Homo sapiens: one gene and its partners. The protein of the gene in region 4 purifies or fractionates together with the protein of the main gene of each other region. This does not show direct contact. Each region holds a gene or a part of one and is shown on either strand. Other genes may lie near its edges. The genes, in order: KLHL41, THNSL1, CRNN and UTP11.

Region 1 (7,038 bases), on a different chromosome or scaffold from region 4:
AAAGCTATGTGAGACTCATAAGTTGGTGTGTGGCTAAAAGTGATGATTAATTGATGACTTGCACAGAGTTGAATGTGATGGTTATGAGCAGATTGAGGAGTCAACTTACTATATGCACTAAGAAGGAACAGTGAATGGAGGATATCACATCCCAGAAAATGAAATAATACAGTCACCTTCCTTGCTGTCAGAAATTTAGCAAATAGGTAGCCCTTTCATGGAGTGTAGCCAAAATTTAAACCAGTGAATACACTTCCTCCTCCACATCACCCACTGACCCCAACTGCTGTCCCAGCAGTTTAAAGAATCAATCCATTTCCTAAGGGTGCTCCCTCACCCTCCTGCCACAGATGCTGTAGTTAATGGCTTGAAGACTGTGATTTACTGGTTTTAAATTAAAATTTTAAAAATTTGATTTGGAAACCACAAATAATACGCCAGTGTCGCAAAAAGAATGGAGAGAAAAGGCCATTTGAATTTGACTACTTTTACTTACAAGAGACTTTTCCCCATCAAACGATTTCCCCATCCATTTATTACACTTCTGAAGTAGGATTTCTGAAGTCATCTTATGGCATGTAATTCTTAGTATAATGCACAGGATTCCTGTCATTTTGAAGCACGAGGAGAGGTTTTTGATATCTTAAACATTTTTTTAGTGTAGATGCACATATTCTCCACTTCCAATTGTAATAGAAAATCAGTTTAAGGATACCCTAATGATGCAAATGAAATGATTAGCAAACAACTCAAATTTAGGAGCCTTCTTTACAATCCATTGAGTGAAACAGATTCACAAAATAATTTGTTCAACTGAAGATTTAATTTATTATTAGAAAATGGTTTTAAACTCTGATCATTACATTGAAGAGTCAATGACTGAGGTTTTCTTACCTACTGCTCATCTCTTAGACAATAACTTCTTGAATAATTTCTACATGAGTGTCTGTACAAGCTTTTAAAAAACAGAATAAATTAAAGCCCCATTCACCAAACAAACCACCTCCCAATCTATTATGTTTTGTCACCTTGTTCACAGTTTAGACAGTTTGAAGAGATTTAAACGTGTTGCTAGGCAACTAGCTCCTGAAGCATAACGTATTTCCTTCAACATCCCAGCCCATTCTTTTTTATCATCTTCATACCTGATGGAGGAAAAAAAAAGTAATCAATAAGCAGCTTTAGTTCCATAGGTTTCCCTGTGTTCAGAATACAAATGTGGATCTTTGAAAAAACCCTAGTGGCTCTTACTCAGAAGAAGATGCACCTGCCTGGTAGAACAGAACTTAAATATCTCCCAAATATGCATTGTCTGGATGAGCATGTGCCTGAACTACTGCCACAGTATTTAATCTGGATGCCTAGGCAGTTCAGCATTCTCTGGGAATCAAAGACTGCAGAGAAGAGGAATAAATAGCTAAGCAGTTAAACATTCATTCACCTTTGAATTGATGAAGATGGCTGGTCTCTGAGTCAAAGTAAGCAGACTCTTGCTTAAGAGAAAGAACTGAGGAAGAGCAGGGACTATCGGTAGACTTAATTATGCCTTCAATTGTTCCTATACACTAGTGCCTAGCATGGCACCTGATACACAGCTGTCACTTTATGAAAATTTGTTCCCCTTCCCCTTTATTGTTCTGTTTGAGGACTACTCTTAGACTTTGCACTTGACTTAGGTAAGAACTGGTCTTCATCTCTGAATATTCAAGGTTATAAAGATACAGATAACTTGAATTCCCTTGTACGATGTGTGCTGAACATGTCTGCTCTGCCTGGTGCCTGGAATATTTTCTTTGTGTGGGAAGCTTCTAAATGCCGCCTTCTCTCTGAAACCTTTCTCACCTTCCTTAAGCACAGTTTGTTGCTTTCTCTTTCTCATATCATCCTTTATATGGTATTATAGCAATTATCACTCCATTTTAATTCCCCCCCCCATATCAATGTCCTCAAGCCTCAAAGGCATCTGAGGACAAATAATATATTAATATCTCTCCACAAATTGTCAAGACCTGGCACAAGACAACCCCAAATCAGCCAGGTGTGGTGGCTTACACCTGTGATCCCAGCACTTTGGGAGGCCGAGGGGGGCAGGTCACCTGAGATCAGGAGTTTGAGACCAGCCCGGCCAATATGGCAAAACCCCGTCTCTACTAAAAATATAAAAATTAGCCAGGCATGGTAGTGTGCGTCTGTAATCCTAGCTACTCCGGAGGCTGAGGCAAGAGAACTGCTTGAACCCGGGAGGCGGAGGTTGCAGTGAGTCAAGATTGCACAGCAAGACTCCATCTCAAAAAAAAAAAAAAAAAAAAAAGATTTACCCCAAATCATTCTGTGATGAATGGAGATTTAAAATAATTATTAAAATTAGCTTGTACCTACATAAGACATGCTCTGACTTAATTTCATCAATGTTCCAAATTAGTTCTCAATAATTGTACCATGCACTGATTTTTATGTAGAGGAAAGCATACAAAAAATATTTTGCTACTAATAAAGGGAATAACCTTAATTACATAAAATTCAGGGCAACAAATTAAGAGATAAATAATAGTTTTAAATGACCTAAAGAAAGTGACCACATTTAAACAATATGAGGTTAAGGTTAAATGAGGTTTAAAAATGTTTGCTTCCTGGCAGTTATATTTACTTTCAGCTTGGTCAATCCTAAATAATGGAATGATTTCAAGAAAAAAATACAAGAATGGAATTTTTTTTTTACGTATAGTAAGAGGGTCTATGTTGAGAATGTTGTATACTGAGAGTTTTCACCTCTGCATGTGTGGTTAGGGAGGTTCACTAGGAAATTGAGGGCAAATAGGCAGCCACGTTTCTCTAGATCGGCGGCCTTCAACTTTAACACACATCTAAGTCACCTGGAGGGTTTGTGCAAACACAGATCGCTGGCCCTATCACCCCCAGAGTTTCTAATTTAACAGATTTGAAGTGAGACCTGAGAATCTGCCTTTCTGATAAGTACCCAGGTGAGGCTGATGCTGCTTTGGGAACCACTGTAGTAGATTACAGGTTCTCAAACTTAATTGCCAATAGAACCAGCTGGAGATGTTAAAGATACTGATGCCTAGGTCCTACTCTCAGAGATTGAGTTAATTGGTATGAAGGGTGGCCTGGGCATCAGGATTTTTTAAAGCTCCCCAAGTGTTTCTAATATGCAGCAAAGTTTGAGAATCATGCTCCAGATCCTACCCCAAATTAGGAAATACCAGTCTCAAAATAGCCAAGCAGATAGTGATGAATGCCCCCCTCTTCTCTTTACCCAATCCAGTGGTTCCCAAACTTGTCTACACATATAGAAACATCCATGGATCTTTTAAAATTTCCAAAGCCCAGGCCATACTTCAGACCAATTAAATTGCAGTCAATATAAGTGGGATAGAGGTGTTAATATTTTTTGAAGCACCCTGGTGATTCGAACGTGCAGGCAACTTTGGGAACCACTGCTCTAATCGCAAAATAAACCACAATCAGAGAGGATCCCTCTTTTAGGTTCCCTAAACAATGTCAGGGCCACTTTTATAGCAGGAGATTCTGTACTTTCTTTTGCTGCCTGTAACTGTTCCCTGCAGGGGCAGCATGGCTTTTGATAACCCTTAGGAACCAGGAGGGCTTCAGGGAGGTCCCACTGATTGACAGCACAATTACTTAATATCAGTGTTTCTCAACCCTGGCTGCTGATTAGAATCATCTGGGGCTGGGCTCGGTGGCTGACGCCTGTAATCCCAGCACTGTGGGAGGCTGAGGTGGGTGGATCACCTGAGGTCAGGAGTTCAAGACCAGCCTGGCCAATATGGTGAAACCCCATCTCTACTAAAAATACAAAAATTAGCCGGGCATGGTGGTGCACACCTGTAGTCCCAGCTGCTCCAGAGCCTGAGGCAGGAGAATCGCTTGAACCCAGGAGCTGGAGGTTGCAATGAGCCAAGATCACATCACTGCACTACAGCCTGGGTGACAGAGTGAGACTCTGTCTCACCAAAAAAAAAAAAAAAAAAAAAAAAAAAAAAAATCACTGGGAAGGTTTTAGGAACTAGGGATGCTCAACTCTACCTCCAGAAATTTTGATATAATTGGTCTGTGTTAAGGCCCAGACACTGGTATATTTTAAAAGCATCCCAGATGATTGTAACATACAGCTAGGGTTGAGAATCACTGCCCATTTATATATTTGGTACCTGGCCCTGTTTTCCAAAAAACCCTAACCTTCCCGGCCTTCATTAGTTCATCCTTTTTTCCTACTGCTTCCAGCTTTTCCCCATCTCACTGTTTTGCTAATTCTAGCCTCTTTGCTCCGTGGAAATCTCATTTTTTTTCTCTTTCTCCCTCTTTTTTGGGGGGAGGAGGGAAAGTAGTTAATTTCCTTGCATAGCCACTTTTTTTCTTGCCCTCTACACAGCTAGTTAATATTACAACATGGGGAAATGATGTCTAATGCACAAATCATTGTTTGGTTAAGGTACCAGCTTTTCAGCCTTTTTAGTTCAGCATCTGGGAATAAAGCATCTGCTGGTTAAGGTATAGAACAAATAATACCCACTTTTCACTCTCAGGCTTAGTGGTATGCCTTCACTGATTAAGTATAAATGGCACTCTTCCAAAGCTGTACTTATAAACTTAAATGTGCAAACAATTCACCTAAGAATCTTGTTAAAAAATACAGATTCTCATTCAGTAGGGTCTGGGATTCTGTGTTTCTTTTTTCTTTTTTTTTTTTTCTTTTAAGACTCGCTCTGTAGCTGAGGCTGGAGTGCAGTGGCGCGATCTCAGTTCAAAATAAAATAAAAACAAACTTTTTTTTTAATAGCCTCACTAAAATGTTCAATTGAGTAACAGTTTCAAGTGTCATACTTAGGAGAACTGCCTGGCACCTCCAGGCAGGTAAAATGGATTGCTATTTTGACTTTTTTCATTTTAAAAAAGCATTTATTAGCTGAAGCCTAAAACAATTGGAAAGCTGTTTAAATTAGATTGAAAACAGAACTAATGAAGTAGTGGAAAGCTCAAGAGGTTAAATGTTTCTTTAGGCTGGGTACGTGGCTCACGCCTGTAATCCTAGCACTTTGGGAGATTGAGGCGGGTGGATCACCTGAGGTCAGGAGTTCGAGACCAGCCTGGCCAACATGGCGAAATGCCGTCTCTACTAAAAATATAAAAATTAGCTGGGCGTGGTGGATATGCCTGTAATCCCAGCTACTCGGGAGGCTGAGGCAGGAGAATCACTTGAACCTGGGAGGCCGAGGTTGCAGTGAGCTGAGATCCCGCCATTGTACTCCAGCCTGGGTGACAGAAACTCTGTCTCAAAAAAATAAAAATAAAAAAGTAAAAAACATAAAATTTTTTTTAGAACTCTGTTTTGTTAGGAAATAAACTACTCTGGAGCAAAGAGGCTTTCACTCTACTGGATGCCTATAGCATTATACTCTTAGAGCTGGAATGAAACTGAGAGTATCAAAGGTCCAACTCTCATTTTACAGTAAGAAACAGGCCTGCCCAGATGATTTCTTTCTCAGGCTCAGAGCTAACTAGAAGTAGATACTTGTTCAAGTAAGTGGCATGTACAGAAGTTCAATTAGGTTTGAAGTGTTTAGTCTACTACCAAGAAGTAGCTTGCATGTTGGGAAAATCTGGCTTATTGTTTACTACAAAATAGTTTATCAGTCATCTGATTTAATATGTGATTCTGAAAATTGAAGTGATGAGAACTTACTTCCATATGTCATTGACTTCAGTGGGTGCAAATTCTTTAGACTCCAGTTGAATCATAGCAAAACCACCAATTGCATACAGAGATCCAGCCAGGCTGACCAAACTGATGGAGCTTCTTTCTTGGGGAAATTCGGTCATTACATCCCATCTAGGTATCATTAAAAATATAGTCAATGTAAAACTTAAAGAAATGCCAGATGTACTTACTGAATAATTATAGGAAATAATAATTTAAAAATTCAAGTAGTGGCCAGGCAGCCAGGCGCGGTGGCTCATGCCGGTAATCCCAGCACTTTGGGAGGCTGAGACGGGTAGATCACCTGAGGTCAGGAGTTTGAGACCAGCCTGACCAACATGGTGAAACCCCACCTCTACCAAAAATACAAAAAATTAGCCAGGCACGGTGGCGCGCACTTGTAATTTCAGCTATTTGGGAGGCTGTGGCAGGAGAATCACTTGAACCTGGGAGGCGGAGGTTGCAGTGAGCTGAGATTGTGCAACTGTACTCCAGCCTGGGCAACAGAGCGAGACTCCATCTAAATAAAAAATAAATATTCAAGTAGCGGCTGGGTTCGGTGGCTCATGCCCGTAATCCCAGCACTTTGGGAGACTGAGGCAGGAGGATTGCTTGAGCCCAAGGAGTATGCGACCAGCCTGGGCAACAAAATGGACTGCCTCCACACACACACACACACATACACACACACACACACACACACACACACACACACACTGAGGCAGGAGGATAGCTTGAGCCCAAGGAGTATGAGACCAGCCTGGGCAACAAAATGGACTGTCTACACACACACACACACACACACACACACACACACACACACACACACACACACACACAGAGCTAGGCCTGGTGGTATGTCCCTATAGTCCCAGCTACTTGGGAGGATCTCTTGAGCCCTTGAGGTCAAGGCTGCGGTGAGCTATGATCGCATTGCTGCATTCCAGCCTGGGTGATAGAGCAAAACCCTGTCTTTAAGGGGGGAAAAAAAAATTCAAGGAGCACAGGCATCTAAAAGTAAATGACTAAGTTTGCTACTAGAAAATATTTGAAAGATGTAACTTCATTAAATATAAAGCCTTCAATATGGCAACCCTAAGGCCGGGCACGGTGGCTCATGCCTGTAATCCTAGCACTTTGGCAGGCCTAGGTGGGTGGATCACCTGAGGTAAGGAGTTCGAGACCAGCCTGACCAACATGGTGAAACCCCATCTCTACTAAAAATACAAAAAATTAGCCGATTTTTTTCTAATTATAAAAATAATATATGTACATTATAGAAAATCTGTACTCCAGCCTGT
Region 2 (7,683 bases), on a different chromosome or scaffold from region 4:
ATCCTCCTGTATACCTTAATCTCTGAATAACTTATAATACATAATACAATGCAAATGCTAGGTACAGAGCTGTTGTACTAATTTGCTTTTTTGTTTGTGGTATTTTTACTGTTCCATTATTTTCGTGTTTTTGTTTGTTTTTCAGACAGGCTCCCACTCTGTTGCCCAGGCAGGAGTGCAGTGGCACAATCTTGGCTCACTACAGCCTTGACTTCCTAGGCTCAAGCAATCCTCCCACCTCAGCCTCCCAAGTAGCTGGGACTAAAGGCACGCACCACCACACCCAGCTAATTTTAGTATTTTTAGTAGAGAGGGGGTTTCGCCATGTTGCCCAGGCTGGTCTCCAACTCCTGGGCTCAAGCAGTCTTCCTGCCTTGGCCTTCAAAAAGTGCTTGGATTGCAGGTATGAGCCACTGTGCCCAACTAAAATTTTAAAATATTTTCAATCTGTAATTAGTTGAATCTGAGAATGGGAAATTCACAGATATGGAGAACTAACTGTGTATCAGGACACAAACTAGCCAAAAGGAGGTTAAGCTCTACTGCTTCTGACTTCTGACCAAAAATTCTCTCAAACTTTTCATTCAGAGGGCCTCCCACTTGCCATGAAACAGAGGTGAGGGTGGAAGGACCACACAATCCAGTATAGTTCTGTAATCACAAGGATCTCACAACTAAAACAATTTTGCAAGTTCATCACTTAGTCTTTATATTACTATCAAAGCTGACTAAGCTTTTTCTGCCGTTAGACTTCTGCTGTTAGACATATTCTTAACGATCTCGAATATTTAATTGAAAACTTTAGTATCCACAATTCTATAACTTTGAGAATTATAAAGAACCTGTCTTTATAAAGGGTTTATTTACCTTCCAATTGTCTTATATACTCATCTACACCCATTTTATTCATTTAAATAGATTAAAATAATCCTTCGCAAAAAAAAAAAAAAAAAAAACAACTCTCATTTGTTTATGTACATCACAGGCATACCATTATATACGGGGATCTAGGATCTGTGCAAACTACAATCCACAGGCTAAATCTGGCCCACCATCATTTTCATAAATCAAGTTTCTTTGAAGCACAACTTCAGTCATTCATGTGCTCACATATTTGTTCAGTACCGTCTTTGGCTGCTTTTGAGCTACAATGGCAAAACTGAGTAGTTGCAACATAACCACTTGGCCTAAAAAGGCCTGAAATATTTACTGTCTACCCCTTTATAGACAGTTTGTTCATCCCTGTAGGTATATACCAGTTAATTCCCTGTGGACATGCGGTGGACACAGGCATTTTTTTGAAGTGTCATTTCAAGAGCATTATAAAAACTAGAAATAATTTTGCTTAAACACACTTTCAAAAGGCAAGGAGAATTGCAGATCAAATGTCTAAGAAAAAAGAAAAGTTTTTTTCCAAATGATTTAACAACCTGCTCATGGCTGTAAACTAACTATACCACAGTGAGGTCTTGCACAAATTGTTTAGCATTTTTTAAAGCATAATAAATATACAGACATCAGTGAAATTATTTTATTTCAGTAACCCCAGAACATCAAGGCTACCAAAGGCCAGTTGGTGCTAACTGCAGAAATCATGTTTTGCCCTTACTTGCTATTTCAGGAACTGATTAACACAAATAGTCTCAAGGTGTTCCTTCTAATTAGAAAATTCATAAGCTTTAGCCAGTGACTATCCACTTGGCTAATGGCGTTATCATTCCATGAGTCCTTGGTTCGAATCTTCGTACATACAGGAGGTTTCCCGCCAAATTTTTTCTCTATACTTGCTAAACAGAAATCCCAAACATAAAATACTCAAGGGCGAAAAGAAAGGGGCAAAGTGATATAGATTTGGATCTAGATCTAAATATAGATCTACAGATCCATCTATCTAAAATGTTTTGGAAGACAATCTGATGTGAAGAAATCTGGAGAATTTTCCCTAAGCGTCTGGGACAAAAATTAAAATCAACTGTATACAAAAAAAAAAAAAAGAAAAACTTAACGTATTCTTATGTAGTGAAATTCAGTAAGAGCCCAAAGTAAGGACCTACACATTCAGTAAAGCCTTTTTATACAGGAACTAAAAGGTTCACCAGGCCATTGTGTTGTTTTAATCACTCCGCCAGCCAACCAGGCAGTGAGAAACCCAGACTCAAGTGTGTTTTCTCTCCTCTCCGGGAAGCTTTATTTCCTTCGGGCAGAGTGGCCTCTGTACCGGTGGTTCAGAGGCATCCATCTTCCTCCCCAAATCCTATTACCAAAATGTCTTTTAAACACTCGGGTAAAAGCGTCTAAATGACTTTCCTACGGCAGGCCCATGTGCATAGATTTACGGGTGACCAGGTGGAACAAAAAGGAATAAAACCGCTTCTCAGAAGACAATTTTCCAACAAGGGACACCAAAAACTGGACAAAAACGTAAAGGCCCACTTAAAAGGCTTCTCCTCTTAGTTTAGGCTGCTCATTTACAAAGAGCAGGTCCACTGGTTCCTGGAGAACGACCTAGAGGAAGAGTCCCGACCCGGGGAAGAGCAGGCGCAGAGCCGACCCGGAGGACCGCCCAAGGGGCGGTCCCGGGAGCAGGGGCGGGAGGGCGAGCGCAGCAGGCGGAGGAGGCCGCGGGCCCCGTGCGCGCACTCACACACGTGGCGGGCAGGGCTGCGCGGCGTTCCGAGGAGCCTCGACCAGAAGCAGCAGGAAAAATGCGCGCAGAGTTGAGATGACCAGCGAGTAGCGGAAAGGGGAAGGGACGGTACGGGGAAAGGCATGCGATGGGAGCGGGCTGGCTTCTAGTTTTCCTTCCTTTCTCCTCCAATAACTCACCAAGGAAATCTCACTGAGAAGACGGGGGAAATGAAAGGAAATGGGGGAGCAGTGTCCACGAGCCGCTAAAGCCTCCACAGGAGACGGAGCACCGTACCTGCAGCTAGCTCCCCGGTCCCGCCCCCGCGCAGTGGACTCTGCGCCTGTGCCTGCGGCGGCCAGCGTGCCTCCGCTCCACGCCCTTCCCCGAGCGGCCTCGCGCAGGGCACGTGACTCTCCTTTCTCACTGTAGCCTATCCGAGCACTCCGATCTCCTCAGGCTCCTCCCCTCCCTCGTCTCCCTGGCGGCGCTGGCCTTGCGTCCTCGTGGTCTCAGCCGCTCGCTCCGCCCACACCGCGATTGGGGCCTGCTCACAAAAACCTTATTGGGTGACGCCTGCGCACCAGCTGCGCTTTGCCGTCTCTACTAGGATTTTTCTTTTTTCCCCAGATACACAGAAATAGAAAAGAGCACAGTTTTTAAGGGGACATCATTTTCACCCCGTTAACTTTCAAAGGCACGTAAAAACAGTGGCTTCCAAATGAGCTTCTCTAGCAGAAGGCGCTGCAGAAAGAGGGAAGAGGGGAGACCTAGTTTGCGGTGCTGCCTGCCACTTCCTCGTTGCCTAGTAACGGTTTCCACGGCAACCGCACAGTCAACGACGCTTAGCAATCCGGAGAGAAATAGGGTGTTTTCTTCCCGAGAGAGGACTGCTAAGAGGGGGTTAAAGGGGGACGATGTGAAGGAGAGAACCTGTGGTCCTTCAGAAGGCGAAGAAGAAAGAAAGGGGAAGCAGTGAAGAAAGGGACGGAGATACTGGGACAGGGAGAAAAAAGTTGTGGAGAGTAGCTTTTAAGGAGTCATTTGGTGGCCATGGATCCAACGTGCTCTTCTGAGTGCATTTATAACCTCATACCCAGTGACTTGAAGGAGCCTCCCCAGCCTCCTAGGTATGTGGATAAGCAAAGACTATCACTTGAAACAAGAATGGGGAATACTCAGTATTAATTAAGCATACATATACTGGAATTTTTAATAATAAATAAAATGTATTTTTGCCTCGATGAAGTAGCCTTGGAGGATAACTTGTTAGAGAAAAGGTCGAAATATCTAGGTATTCAGCATCTCACAGTTTTACAGAGAGGGCAGTCTGGCGCTGTGAGATGACCATTTTATTATATTACACTTAACCTCTTATTAATACGGTATGTGATTATTGTGTAATTTAATTATATGTGATATACAGCATAGTATGAAGTTTCATGTTGAAAAGAAAAAAATCACAATTCTATTATCTTGTTTAAGGATACTTGATGTTTGGTTTCAGGAGTTCGGTGTTGTATTTCTAACTGCACTACTCCCTCTCTAATGGGATAGGATAGGACTTTTCCCCCAAGATTTTTATGAAATATAAATTTACATTTGCTTTTGAGCCTCAGGTTTTTGATCAGTGAAACGAAATATCTACCACTATTAGGCAGTTTCTAAGGACTTTTTCAGATCTAATGGTTTAAATGGAAGGAAGAATTGGTGGATAGATAATGAACCAAAAAATATGTAATTGAGTTGAAATTTTACATAGGTCTTAGAACCTCTTAAATTCTCCAAATCTCAAAAACGTGCAAAGGAAGCACTTCAGTTACTCCCATCTGTAGGGACTTCTTAGAACTTACTTAAATCTGTGGGGAGCAAAGAAAGTAGTGGAGAAAATCTCATTTCTCCTAGGACTTGAAATGTTTCCTGTCTTTTACCATCATCCTTGTCCGTATGCAAGTCAAAACCACATTTGAAAAGGACTGGACTAAAAATCGGGCCTAGCAATTAATTGTCTTTGTGAACTTTAGAATAAAGTTTCATTTGTTTACTGATCTGTGAGATAAATGTACCAGATAATATCCAAGGCCCCTTTTAGATCTAATGGTCAATTATTTTTACTAGTATTAGGGTAATAGCTTCAACAAGTAGGCAGCTTCTTCAATTTTAAGTATCTGGTTTAAATTAGAGCAGTAACTGTATTACATCTCCATTAGCATATCAACATCTAGAGACTGGAAAGAGGAATGTAAAGTAAGTTATGGCACAGTTGCAGAATTTATTTTCAAATTTTCTATTGTTGCACCAACTTTTGGTTTCAAATTCCTGCATATTACATGAGATAAAACTCCTCTATAACAGATTGGTAGATTGTATTTCTATAGAATATTGAATTTGAGAGTTATTTTATTAGGTAGGTATTCTGTTCTTTGGCAAATTAAAAAGCTTTACTGCATCTAGACGATTTTTTTTTTCAAAAAAAATTTATAGGAACAGTCTTTATTCATTTGGCAAGCATTAATGGAGCCCCTATTATGTGTATAATATTGCACTAGTATATCTGTTCTTGGTGCTGTTGGAGTGATAGCACAGACTTCTTGGTTTTACTATGAAGAAATGAGTAGAAGAAAGATTTATGATTAGAGGAAATAGAGGCACCCAAATGTGATGCCAAAAGAATCATTTCTGTTAGGTTAAAGTCAATTTACACTGGCAAGATTCTGACAACTGCCTGGCTTTTGATCTCCCACGCCTCAGAGTTTACCGTCTTTTTGGGGAACTGAAATATGAACACTAAAATTTATCATTGAAAACCATAATGAGAGATGAAGATACTAAATGAGAACTTAGAAGATGAATGTATGTGACCAAAATCGGATGAAAGGCACTTTTCTGCAGTTGAACTATTGGCTGAGACTTAAGTTATGAAAGCCTCAGAGTCAATGGGAAGTCATGATTCAGTTTTCAAAATTTGAGTTACTCATGATGCATAAGATGGTTTCCAAGATTTTCACCAAATCTGTCACCCTTTTTTTTTTAATTACTTTTTTTTCAAGACGGAGTTTCACTCTTTTTGCCCAGGCTGGAGTGCAATGGCGCCATCTTGGCTCACTGCAGCTTCTGCCTCCTGGGTTCAAGCGATTCTCCTGCCTCAGCCTCCCGAGTAGCTGGGATTACAGGTCCCTGCTACCATGCCTGGCTAATTTTGTATTTTTAGTAGGGATGGGGTTTCACCATGGTGGCCAGGCTGGTCTTGACCTCCTGACCTCCAGTAATCCACCCACCTCTGCCTCCCAAAGTGCTATGATTATAGGCGTGAGCCACCACGCCTGGCCTATCACCCTTTATTGATGTCTGCAGTTATTGAATATCTCCAGTCATCCCCTCTTTCCATTTTGTTTAAAGCAATATTCCAGTTATGGTCTGAACAGTCCATGAAACCATTATCTCCTTTCCATAATTCTTGGCACAATATTTTCATCCATTCAGCCTAAGCTTCCATAAGCATTTTGACAGTCATGTCCAACTATTGGCTCACACTAAAATACCCTGTATGGATTTTGACTAAGGTTGGTCTCTCCCATCCTCTAATTATGTAGCTGATTCTTTTTTATCTCAACTCATTAATCTATGGAGATAGTTTTGCATTTGAATCTTTTATACATTCTGTTAACCATTCTTTTTGTGTCATTTGCAAATTTAATAAATATGTCTTTTATATCTCTTATCTATCATAGAACATAGTATATTAGTCTGTTCTCACGCTGCTAATAAAGACATACTCGAGACTGGGTAATTTATATTTCAAAAGAAGTTTAATTGACTCACAGTTTCACATGGCTGAGGAAGCCTTACAATCATGGCAGAAGGCAAAGGCGGAGCAAAGTCACATCTTACATGGTGGCAGGAAAGAGAGTGTGTGCAGGGGAACTCCCCTTTATAAAACCATCAGATCTCATGAGACTTATTCACTATCATGAGAGCAGCACAGGAAAGACCCACTCCCATGATTCAATTACCTATCACCAGATCCCTCCCATGACATATGGGAATTATGGGATCTCATCAATTTAATGTGAGATTTGCGTGGGGATGCAGCCAAACCATATCATTCTACCCCAGCCCCTCCCAGATCTCATGTCCTCACATTTCAAAACCAATCATACCTTCCCAACAGTCCCCCAAAGTCTTAACTCATTTCAGCATTAACTCAGAAGTCCACAGTTCAAAGTCTCATTTGAGACCAGGCAAGTCCCTTCTGCCTACAAGCATATAAAATCAAAAGCAAGTTAGGTACTTCCCAGATACAATGGGGGTCCAGGCATTGGGTAAATATAACCATTCGAAATAGCAGAAATTGGCCAAAACAAAGGGGCTATAGGCCCCTTGCAAGTCCAGATTCTAATAGGGCAGTCATTAAACCTTAAAGTTCCAAAATGATCTCCTTTGACTCCATGTCTCACATCCAGGTCACGCTGATGCAAGAGGTGGGATCCTATGGTCTTGGGCAGCTCTGTCCCTGTGACCTGGCACAGTACAGCCCCCATTCCGGCTGCTTTCATGGGTGGGCATTGAGTGTCTGCAGCTTTTCTGGGTGCATGGTGCATGCTCTCAGTGGATTTACCATTCTGAGGTCTGGAGAACAGTGGCCCTCTTCTCACAGCTCCACTAGGCAGTGCCCCAGTGGGAATTCTGTGTGGGGGGCTCCCACCCCATATTTCCCTTCCACACTGCCCTAGCAGAGGTTCTCCATGAGGGCTCTGCCCCGAAGCACATCTTTGCCTAGACATCCAGACATTTTGATACAACCTTTGAAATCTAGGTGGAGGTTCCCAAACCTCAATTCTTGACTTCTGTGCACCCGTAGTCCCAACACCATGTGGAAGCCACCAAGGCTTGGGGCTCGCACCCTCTGAAGCAATGGCCTGAGCTCTACGTTGTCCCCTTTTAGCCATGGCTGTGACTCAGGGCACCAAGTCCCAAGATTGCACAAAGCAGCAAGGCCCTGGGCCCAGCCCATGAAACCATTTTTTCTCCTAGGTCTCTGGGCCTGTGATGGGAGG
Region 3 (2,559 bases), about 110 Mb from region 4:
AAGGGCAGCCCAGACAGTCAACTTGAGAGCCCAAACAGTTGCATTGTGAATTCAATAATTTATTAACTCTTCAATAAATCTTTATCTAATTTTCCTGTAGCCCAGAAATTGTGCCAAATAGAGGCTACCAAACAAAAAATGCTCTCTACACTTGAGGGAGAGAGACGGGACTAAAAAAAAATAAAGGCAATTAAGTCTTGCTGCTGCTCTAGCCGTATGTGTGTGTAGTGTGGGGTCTGAGGCAGGGGAAGCTGGCAGCAGATTGGAAGGGACCTGCCCATGTCCTCCTCAGGGGAGGGATGCTGACTCCACCTCATCTTCTCCTCAGAAACCCCACGATCCAGCAACTGTGGATGAGGTCCTGCGTCTGCTGGATGAAGACCACACAGGGACTGTGGAATTCAAGGAATTCCTGGTCTTAGTGTTTAAAGTTGCCCAGGCCTGTTTCAAGACACTGAGCGAGAGTGCTGAGGGAGCCTGCGGCTCTCAAGAGTCTGGAAGCCTCCACTCTGGGGCCTCGCAGGAGCTGGGCGAAGGACAGAGAAGTGGCACTGAAGTGGGAAGGGCGGGGAAAGGGCAGCATTATGAGGGGAGCAGCCACAGACAGAGCCAGCAGGGTTCCAGAGGGCAGAACAGGCCTGGGGTTCAGACCCAGGGTCAGGCCACTGGCTCTGCGTGGGTCAGCAGCTATGACAGGCAAGCTGAGTCCCAGAGCCAGGAAAGAATAAGCCCGCAGATACAACTCTCTGGGCAGACAGAGCAGACCCAGAAAGCTGGAGAAGGCAAGAGGAATCAGACAACAGAGATGAGGCCAGAGAGACAGCCACAGACCAGGGAACAGGACAGAGCCCACCAGACAGGTGAGACTGTGACTGGATCTGGAACTCAGACCCAGGCAGGTGCCACCCAGACTGTGGAGCAGGACAGCAGCCACCAGACAGGAAGAACCAGCAAGCAGACACAGGAGGCCACCAATGACCAGAACAGAGGGACTGAGACCCACGGTCAAGGCAGGAGCCAGACCAGCCAGGCTGTGACAGGAGGACATGCTCAGATACAGGCAGGGACACACACCCAGACACCCACCCAGACCGTGGAGCAGGACAGCAGCCACCAGACAGGAAGCACCAGCACCCAGACACAGGAGTCCACCAATGGCCAGAACAGAGGGACTGAGATCCACGGTCAAGGCAGGAGCCAGACCAGCCAGGCTGTGACAGGAGGACACACTCAGATACAGGCAGGGTCACACACCGAGACTGTGGAGCAGGACAGAAGCCAAACTGTAAGCCACGGAGGGGCTAGAGAACAGGGACAGACCCAGACGCAGCCAGGCAGTGGTCAAAGATGGATGCAAGTGAGCAACCCTGAGGCAGGAGAGACAGTACCGGGAGGACAGGCCCAGACTGGGGCAAGCACTGAGTCAGGAAGGCAGGAGTGGAGCAGCACTCACCCAAGGCGCTGTGTGACAGAAGGGCAGGGAGACAGACAGCCCACAGTGGTTGGTGAGGAATGGGTTGATGACCACTCAAGGGAGACAGTGATCCTCAGGCTGGACCAGGGCAACTTGCATACCAGTGTTTCCTCAGCACAGGGCCAGGATGCAGCCCAGTCAGAAGAGAAGCGAGGCATCACAGCTAGAGAGCTGTATTCCTACTTGAGAAGCACCAAGCCATGACTTCCCCGACTCCAATGTCCAGTACTGGAAGAAGACAGCTGGAGAGAGTTTGGCTTGTCCTGCATGGCCAATCCAGTGGGTGCATCCCTGGACATCAGCTCTTCATTATGCAGCTTCCCTTTTAGGTCTTTCTCAATGAGATAATTTCTGCAAGGAGCTTTCTATCCTGAACTCTTCTTTCTTACCTGCTTTGCGGTGCAGACCCTCTCAGGAGCAGGAAGACTCAGAGCAAGTCACCCCTTTGTACTGAATTGTCCTCATCTTGTGGGGGGTTTCAGGACTATTTTTATCTCTGACATCTCTCTATTGCCCCATCTACCCTAATGCATCAATAAAACCTTAAGCCACTGGCCTCTGTGTCTCATTCAACCACCTTCTATTGATATTACAGGCCAAAGGCTGTAGAGTTATGAGATGATGAACTGGACATAGTCCCTACCTTTGAAGAGCAACTAGTTGAGAAAATATTATATGAGATTCCTGCTATATATCATACTTAATACTTGGCAGAGATGGACCAGCAAAGGTTTCATACAAAAGGCGCTTTCTTTATGATGGCCCTGAAAAGACAATTAGTATTTAGATAGATAGGCAAAATTCCTCTTGGTCTTTCACTACCTCTAATTCTATAGCGTTAAACCGCTATTCACCTGTAAGGTCACACAGGAAAGCTGATTTAAGATTACCAAGAAATGGAAGAAGGCCCCCAGTGGCTGTGTAGGGAAAGAGCGAGAAAGCTTGTGTTACCAGGTACTGAGCCAGGGGCCAGAATTTTGTGCTTCCCTTCCTACCTCCCCCTCAGTGTCAGCTCTGACCTCTCATGATGTCTCACCCACCAGATATAAACCATGTTATGGGGTAGAGACTATCAATTCTGGTTT
Region 4 (7,038 bases):
TTTTCTCATACTGAGTACCACAAGTATAATAATAATAGTAAACTCATGCTGGAAAGCTGCTATGTGTCAAGCCATGTGCAGGCATTACCATTAATAGAAGCTCCTTGAATCCTCAGTATAACCCGGAGAAGCAGGTACTATTTTCATGTTACAGTCAGGAAATAGCAGCTCAGAGAAGTTAAGTGACATGCCCAAGGTCACAGATTGTTCAGAGGTAAAGCTTGGATTTGAACCCACATCTCCAGACTCTAAATTTAGCTCCCTTACCACAGTTGCCTCCCTGTTACTATGTTTTCCCTTTGTAGTATTTTATAAACCCTTGGATTAAGTTGGTAGTAATTTTAGTACAACTGGCAACTGCTTGCTTAGTGCCGAGTCATTGTTGCCTCTCTCTGTCCTTAATAGGCCAAGAAACCTACTACAGCAGTGCTTGTGACCTGTCTGGTGCTGGCAGGGTCCCTCTCATCCTTGGGCAGAGCCCAGTTGTGGGGAGGGGAGGGAACAGGGTCATGGGTTAGCTCCAAGGACTGGATTTACTGAGCACTCCAGAGACTCCTGTGCCTGTTAGATGTCGTGTTGATTTGGATATGTGTTTGCGGAGGAAACTAAGCACTGTTGTTCTTTCTTTTGTCTTCTAGCCTGGCTTTCGAAAACATCTGGGCCTGCTGGAGAAAAAGAAAGATTACAAACTTCGTGCAGAGTGAGTTCAGTCTTTCTGGTAGAGGCGCTGCCAAGAAAGCTTACAACCTCCTTGCACTGCAGCTGAATTGCCTGAGTGTCCAACAGGGGATAATTTCCTGCCATTGATAAAATGGCCAAAGCTCTGGCAGCCTGTCAGATAATTTTTTCTGTGATCCTAAATTTCTCTCTTTGTTTAGGCAGATCATTATTTATTTAACTGTAGTTGCATTGTGAATTATTTGTATTATGTTGTTCCAGATCATTTTCTCATAGTGGCTTTGATTTGGCTCTGCCTTGGTGTTTGAGCCCAAAGTTGAATCTTTTTCTCTTTGTTTTCTTGAAGTGCAGGATATAATCTGAAATTCCATTTGTTGAGTCTCTTACATCACCATGTGTGTGATGTGGAATGAAGAGATGTGAAAGATGGATTCATGAGACCAAGCGTGGGTGATAATGAACTCTGAAAACATTTTATAAAACAATTATCCCCATTCTTGTTCTCTGTTAGCACTTTGTTTGCAAAATACTTCTTAATTATTTGTTAGCGATACATGTCAGCTGAGGTCCTTTTTATGCCCCTGGTCTAGATGGTGGTGATGGATTAAATGGGTTTCTGTAGGTCCCAGAGATTTTAAGGCTAATGATAATTAAGTATTGTTATTGGGCCAGGCAGTGTTCTAGGATATTTACCGTTTTTACACTGATTTGTCCCTCCCAACAACCTTCTGGGATGGGTTACTATTACCGTATTCATTTTACAAATGAAATTGGGATTCAGGATGGTTAAATAACTTATCCAAGGTTACTTAGCCAGAAGTTGTCAAGTCCAGATTTGAACCCATGCTGTCTGGCTCCAGAGTCCATGATTCTAGTCATTGCGCTATACTGTACTGTGTAGTTTCTGAATTACATATGGTCATTTGGTGCCCAAGCTTGCACCATATCCTAAGGAGTTTTAATTTGTACTTTGTTTGGTGTCTCCCTGTAATGATATAAATGGCACTGAAACATATATAGGCTGGGGACAGTTAATTTCAGGTTCCACTGGAATAGGAACTGTTGATTAGACTGTGGACCCTGCGAAGACATGAGCTCAGCTCAGTGACAGTGGAGTGTCCAGATCCAGTCAGTGCTTTTGGCTTTTTTGAGTTTCACTCTGTGTGACCTTTTAGATGCTTGTAAAGTTTGCTTATTGTGGGTTTTTGGTTTTTTAAAATTATCTATTTTTTTTTTTTTGCTATGAACCTCATTTAACCTGTCTTTTAGTGACTACCGTAAAAAACAAGAATACCTCAAAGCTCTTCGGAAGAAGGCTCTTGAAAAAAATCCAGATGAATTCTACTACAAAATGACTCGGGTTAAACTCCAGGTGGGTGCCCAATGGCTTGGTTGGTGTTTTGAGCTCCACACATTGGAAAATAAGGACAGGGAGGAGATGGAGAGGAAGAATCGTTGGCCTTAATTTAACCCTTCTCTGGTTACTCCAGGTGCTCTTGGTCAGTGTCCAAGGCAAACCCTCCACTTCCAGAGGAGCGTGCATTTTTACCTTTGAATCTGGGTTGTCTTATACCTGGAGCTGTTCTAGGACAGATGACTGGAGGTGCTACATTGAACGTACGCCTCAGGGGCCTGTGTCTAGGATTGCTGTTAGCATACAGCATTTGGTTGTCTTTTTGTTTTTTTTTTTGAGATGGACTCACTCTCTGTTGCCCAGGCTGGAGTGCAGTGGTGCGACCTCGGCTCCCTGCAACCTCTGCCTCCCGGGTTCAAGTGATTCTCGTGCCTCAGCCTCTCGAGTAGCTGAACTACAGGCACACACTACTGTGCCCGGCTAAGTTTTTGTATTTTTAGTAGAGACGGGGTTTCACCATGTTGGTCAGGCTGGTCTTGAACTCCTGACCTCAAGTGATCTGCCCATCTCGGTCTCCCAAAGTGCTGGGATTACAGGTGTGAGTGACCGCACTTGGCCTATGGTTGTCTTTGTTCTAGCCGTGCACTGTGCCAACAACTTATTAATGATTTTAATCTAATAGGGAATATATCTTTTAAATTTGGATTTTAGGATGGAGTACATATTATTAAGGAGACTAAGGAAGAAGTAACCCCAGAACAACTAAAGCTGATGAGAACTCAGGACGTCAAATATATAGAAATGAAGAGGGTTGCAGAAGCTAAGGTAATTCACTCTTTGTTCTGATTGGTTTTATTGGTTAAGAAGGGAAACTTAAATTCATCAATCTCAAGTTATTCATTAATTTCTTCTGGCATTTACAATCTCACTTGATTGTAATAATGATTTAGAAGTATAGTTAGCATGGTAGAGTGGAAAGAGTTCAGGTTTGGGAATGAGACAGACCTAGGGTTTGAGTTCTGGCACTGCCATAAATTACTAGCCCCATGACAATGGGCAAATTCAACTCCCTGAGGCTCTTCCCTCATTTCTGTCTCAGGCGACTGTTGCAGGGATTAAGTGCGTCTTGGGAAGTGCCTAGCCCAATACCTGATATTTGTTGGGATCCTTTCCTTTAAAAGAATAAAGCAAGTTCTTTGCTGGCTGGCAATAATGATGTGAAATGGTTTAAACTTTTGCAGTTTTTTTTTTTTTTTGGTACCCTAGAAGAATCTAATATAAAGTGAGACCATATTCTGTGTTCTAGAAAATCGAAAGACTAAAATCAGAGCTCCATCTGCTGGATTTCCAGGGGAAGCAACAGAACAAGCATGTGTTCTTTTTTGACACCAAAAAGGAAGGTATGAAATGTTTGAAGGTTTCTGGGACAGTCTACCATGCCAGTCTGTGTCATTTGGTGTTAGAAACCGACAGTGCCTTAAGGATTGTCTTGAATTTTAGTTGAACAGTTTGATGTCGCAACTCACCTGCAAACAGCCCCGGAGCTAGTCGACAGAGTCTTTAATAGGCCCAGGATAGAGACCTTGCAGAAAGAAAAAGTGAAAGGAGTTACCAATCAGACTGGACTTAAGGTAATTTTCTCTGTTGTTCTTCACATGTGAGCTTAGGGGAATCTAGGTGTTTTTTTTTTGTTTTTTTTTTTTTGCTACTGCATTTAAAATAATTTTTAAAATTTATTTTATTTTATTTTTTAGTCAGAGTCTCACTGTCTCCCAGGCTGGAGTGCAGTGGCACGATCTCGGCTCACTGCAACCTCCGCCTCCTGGGTTCAAGCAATTCTCATGCCTCAGCCTCCCCAGTAACTGGGACTATAGGGGTGCAACACCACACCCAGCTTATTTCTGTATTTTTCATAGAGATGGGGTTTCGCCATGTTGGCCAGGCTGGTCTTGAACTCCTGACCTCAGTTGATCTGCCTGCCTTGGCCTCCCAAAGTGTCGGGATTACAAGCGTGAGCCACTGTGCCTGGCCTAAAATAATTATTTATTTATGGAAAACTCATGAGTTCCCTTAGAAAAGTGGATTTGTAGGATGATTTGATGATGGGATGGAAGTGGAGAAGGGCTTCCTAATTTCTATGATCGGAGGAGGTATAGTGGTCAGAAGCTTAGGTTCTGGCCTTTAGACCTGGGTTTGAATCCCAATTCTGACCCTGCGCTTTGTGCTTTTAATACTTGTAACAGATGCCAGTGTTTTGAAAATGCAGAGAAAGGGATTGCTGAAGATTAAAGGATTTGCAATACTTTAATATTGAACCTTTAGCAGTGAATACGCACATCAAAAGGTCTTTCTGTGTTTTTATTTTTCTTGAGACAGGGTCTCACTGTCACCCAGGCTGGAGTGCAATGGTGTGATTATGGCTCACTGCAGTCTCCACCTTCTGGGCTTAAGCGATCCTCCTGCCTCAGCCTCCTGGGTAGCTGGGACCACAGGTGTGTGCCACCATGCCTAGCTAATTTTAAATTTTTTTTGTAGAAACGGGGTCTCGCTAAGTTGCCCAGGCTGGTCTTAAACTCCTGAGCTCAAGTGTTTACTCCCGCCTTGGCCTCCTGAAGTGTTGGGATTACAGGCGTGAGCCACCATGCCTGCCCAAAAGGTCTTTCATATTGTGTATTGTAACAAAAATTTTGTTTTGGCTTTTCCTTATGGTGCTTTCCGTCACTGTAACTGGGTTGTGCAGAAGACATGCTTTTCCTGAAAGCCTTCTGGAGTTGAACTCTTCTGACTGATTCATTAAAAAAAAATGCTGTCAATGTGTTTCAAGCAGACAGCTGTTCTGTTTTGATTTGAATCATTTACACTGCATCAGTTTTGCTTCCAATGTTTAATTTCACAGCAGTTTTCTCTAGCTCAGAGGCAGCTAAACTTGCTTTAGTAATATAAATACCCCTAATTAGTTTGACTATATTGGGTAATCCCATAAATCTGACAGTCTGTGCAATAAAGCGAAAACAAAAGCTGTCTGAAACCACTGCTGTGAGACTGTGCTAGAATCTGTGAATTGTTGAAGTCTAAGGCCCAGTAATATTTCCTTCTGTAGATAACACTTCCAGCCAAAGAGCTTGCTCATGAGTGTTCTTGTGATAACCCTGTTGTTTGTCAATTAGGTGTACTTTTTTTTTTTTTTGAGACGGAGTCTCACTCTGTCACCCAGGCTGGAGTGCGGTGGCGTGATATCGGCTCACTGCAACCTCTGCCTCCTGGGTTCAAGCAATTCTCTTGCCTCAGCCTCCCGAGTAGCTGGGATTACAGGTGCCCGCCACCACGCCTGGCTAATTTTTTGTATATTTAGTAGAGACAGGGTTTCACCATTTTGGCTAGGCTGGTCTTGAACTCCTGACCTTGTGATCCACCCACCTCAGCCTCCCAAAGTGCAGGGATTACAGGCGTGAGCTACCGCGCCCGGCAATTAGGTGTACTTTCAATTAGCCGTGTCACTGACGCTTCTCAAGAATTGTGGTAGTCCCTAAAGAGATTAGTATTCCAAATTCCCATGTAGAATAGTTCACCAGCATAGCTTTTGAGAAGTTAGGGAGGTTTAGATTTTTGCCATTTTTGTCTAGTAATTATGTTTCTTTCTATTTTGTTTACTGCAAAATCATTTTTATTAAGAGACTGCTGGTGGGTGGATTGCAAGGATATTTTGTCTGTAACTTCGAGTGGGTAGACAACCCATGAGTGAGCTTTAGGAGGTCTGAGAAAACCCCCCTTTCTCACTGGTATTTTGTGCAGATAGGTATATGTGCTTGCACAACCTTTTACAAATGTGTATGTACATTTATCTCAAGAAACATCCCATGCTGGGCGTGGTGGCTCATGCCTGTAGTCCCAGCAATTTGGGAGGCCAAGGCAGGTGGATCACTTGAGGTCAGGAGTTCGAGACTAGCCTGGCCAATGTAGTGAAACCCTGTCTCTACTAAAAATACAAAAATTAGCCAGGCGTGGTGGCGGGCACCTGTAATCCCAGCTACTAGGGAGGCTGAGGCAGCAGAATTGCTTGAACCCAGGAGGCGGAGGTTGTAGCGAGCCGAGATAGTGCCACTGCACTCCAGCCTGGGCGACAGAGCAAGACTCCGCCTCAGAAAAAAAAAAAAAAGAAGAAAGATCCCAAAGCTTTCATCAGTTTCTCTGAGGTTGATGATTCCCCAAAATGTAAGGACCCCACTGATCTTTGAGGAGTCATTAGCAGTGAGAATTCTCAGGTGAGCTTCTGCTGAAAAAATTCTTCTGCTTTCTGAGTGGTAAGATTTTCAGGCACCAGCACACTGCCTGGGGACCCTTCTGTTGCCGACTCTTCTGTTGCTCTCCATTCACTTTGTATAGGGTTTCCAACACTGATTCATTCCTGCCATCATCTCAGGTGACTGTGGCACTCACACAAAGGTTGAAGCAGCTTAGTGTAGTAGTGGAAAGATTCCTGGGATTTGTGAGAGGGGGACGGTCCTGACTCTGCTCCAGGTGAGCTGTGTGTCCTTGGACCACTTCTTCTCTGGGCCTCATTTTTCTGCGTTTGTAAATGACGGGTTTCGATAAGATAGTCTACAGGGTTCCTTTTTTAATTTTTAATTTTTTTTTTTTGAGACAGAGTCTCATTATGTTGCCTACGTTGGTCTGGAACTCCTGGGCTCAAGTGACCCTCCCTCCTCAGCCTCCCAAAGTGCTGGGATTACTGGCGTGAGCCACTGCGTCTGGCCCAGGGTTCCTTTCAGCTCCAGAATGTGATGTTCCTAAAATGGGCAACGTTATTGTTACCACGTTATGTTGATTCTGGTGAAAGAAGGGAGTTGATGAAACTATGCAGTTGGCTTAAATGGATTAAGAAACAGTTTCTTACTCATTTTTGTCCTGTTCATTGTTCACTGAGAATGTGTGTGTTTCTTCTCCAGCGAATAGCTAAAGAAAGGCAAAAGCAGTATAACTGCCTGACACAGCGGATTGAACGAGAG

What was found.
Region 1: the proteins of UTP11 (region 4) and KLHL41 purify together in Homo sapiens (affinity purification with mass spectrometry; 3 studies listed by BioGRID and IntAct, with this or other methods). This does not show direct contact.
Region 2: the proteins of UTP11 (region 4) and THNSL1 purify together in Homo sapiens (affinity purification with mass spectrometry; 3 studies listed by BioGRID and IntAct, with this or other methods). This does not show direct contact.
Region 3: the proteins of UTP11 (region 4) and CRNN purify together in Homo sapiens (affinity purification with mass spectrometry; 3 studies listed by BioGRID and IntAct, with this or other methods). This does not show direct contact.

Annotation. Positions count from the first base shown.
Region 1 is NC_000002.12:169,519,692-169,526,729, reverse strand, and holds the end of KLHL41 (kelch-like protein 41), read right to left. Parts: intron 5,870-7,038; coding exon 5,723-5,869; intron 1,146-5,722; coding exon 1,034-1,145; 3' UTR 472-1,033; downstream 1-471. UniProt on the Homo sapiens protein: Involved in skeletal muscle development and differentiation. Regulates proliferation and differentiation of myoblasts and plays a role in myofibril assembly by promoting lateral fusion of adjacent thin fibrils into mature, wide myofibrils.
Region 2 is NC_000010.11:25,011,933-25,019,615, reverse strand, and holds the start of THNSL1 (threonine synthase-like 1), read right to left. Parts: upstream 3,005-7,683; 5' UTR 2,924-3,004; exon of another isoform or gene 2,827-2,923; intron 1-2,826. Other genes in the region: ENKUR (enkurin), read left to right, coding at 3,680-3,756.
Region 3 is NC_000001.11:152,408,713-152,411,271, reverse strand, and holds the end of CRNN (cornulin), read left to right. Parts: intron 1-328; coding exon 329-1,678; 3' UTR 1,679-2,029; downstream 2,030-2,559. UniProt on the Homo sapiens protein: Promotes cell proliferation, G1/S cell cycle progression and induces expression of the cell cycle regulator CCND1. Regulates proliferation induced by pro-inflammatory cytokine response via activation of NFKB1 and PI3K/AKT signaling pathways.
Region 4 is NC_000001.11:38,015,721-38,022,758, forward strand, and holds part of UTP11 (probable U3 small nucleolar RNA-associated protein 11), read left to right. Parts: intron 1-638; coding exon 639-700; intron 701-1,947; coding exon 1,948-2,050; intron 2,051-2,743; coding exon 2,744-2,857; intron 2,858-3,338; coding exon 3,339-3,432; intron 3,433-3,532; coding exon 3,533-3,663; intron 3,664-6,978; coding exon 6,979-7,038. UniProt on the Homo sapiens protein: Part of the small subunit (SSU) processome, first precursor of the small eukaryotic ribosomal subunit.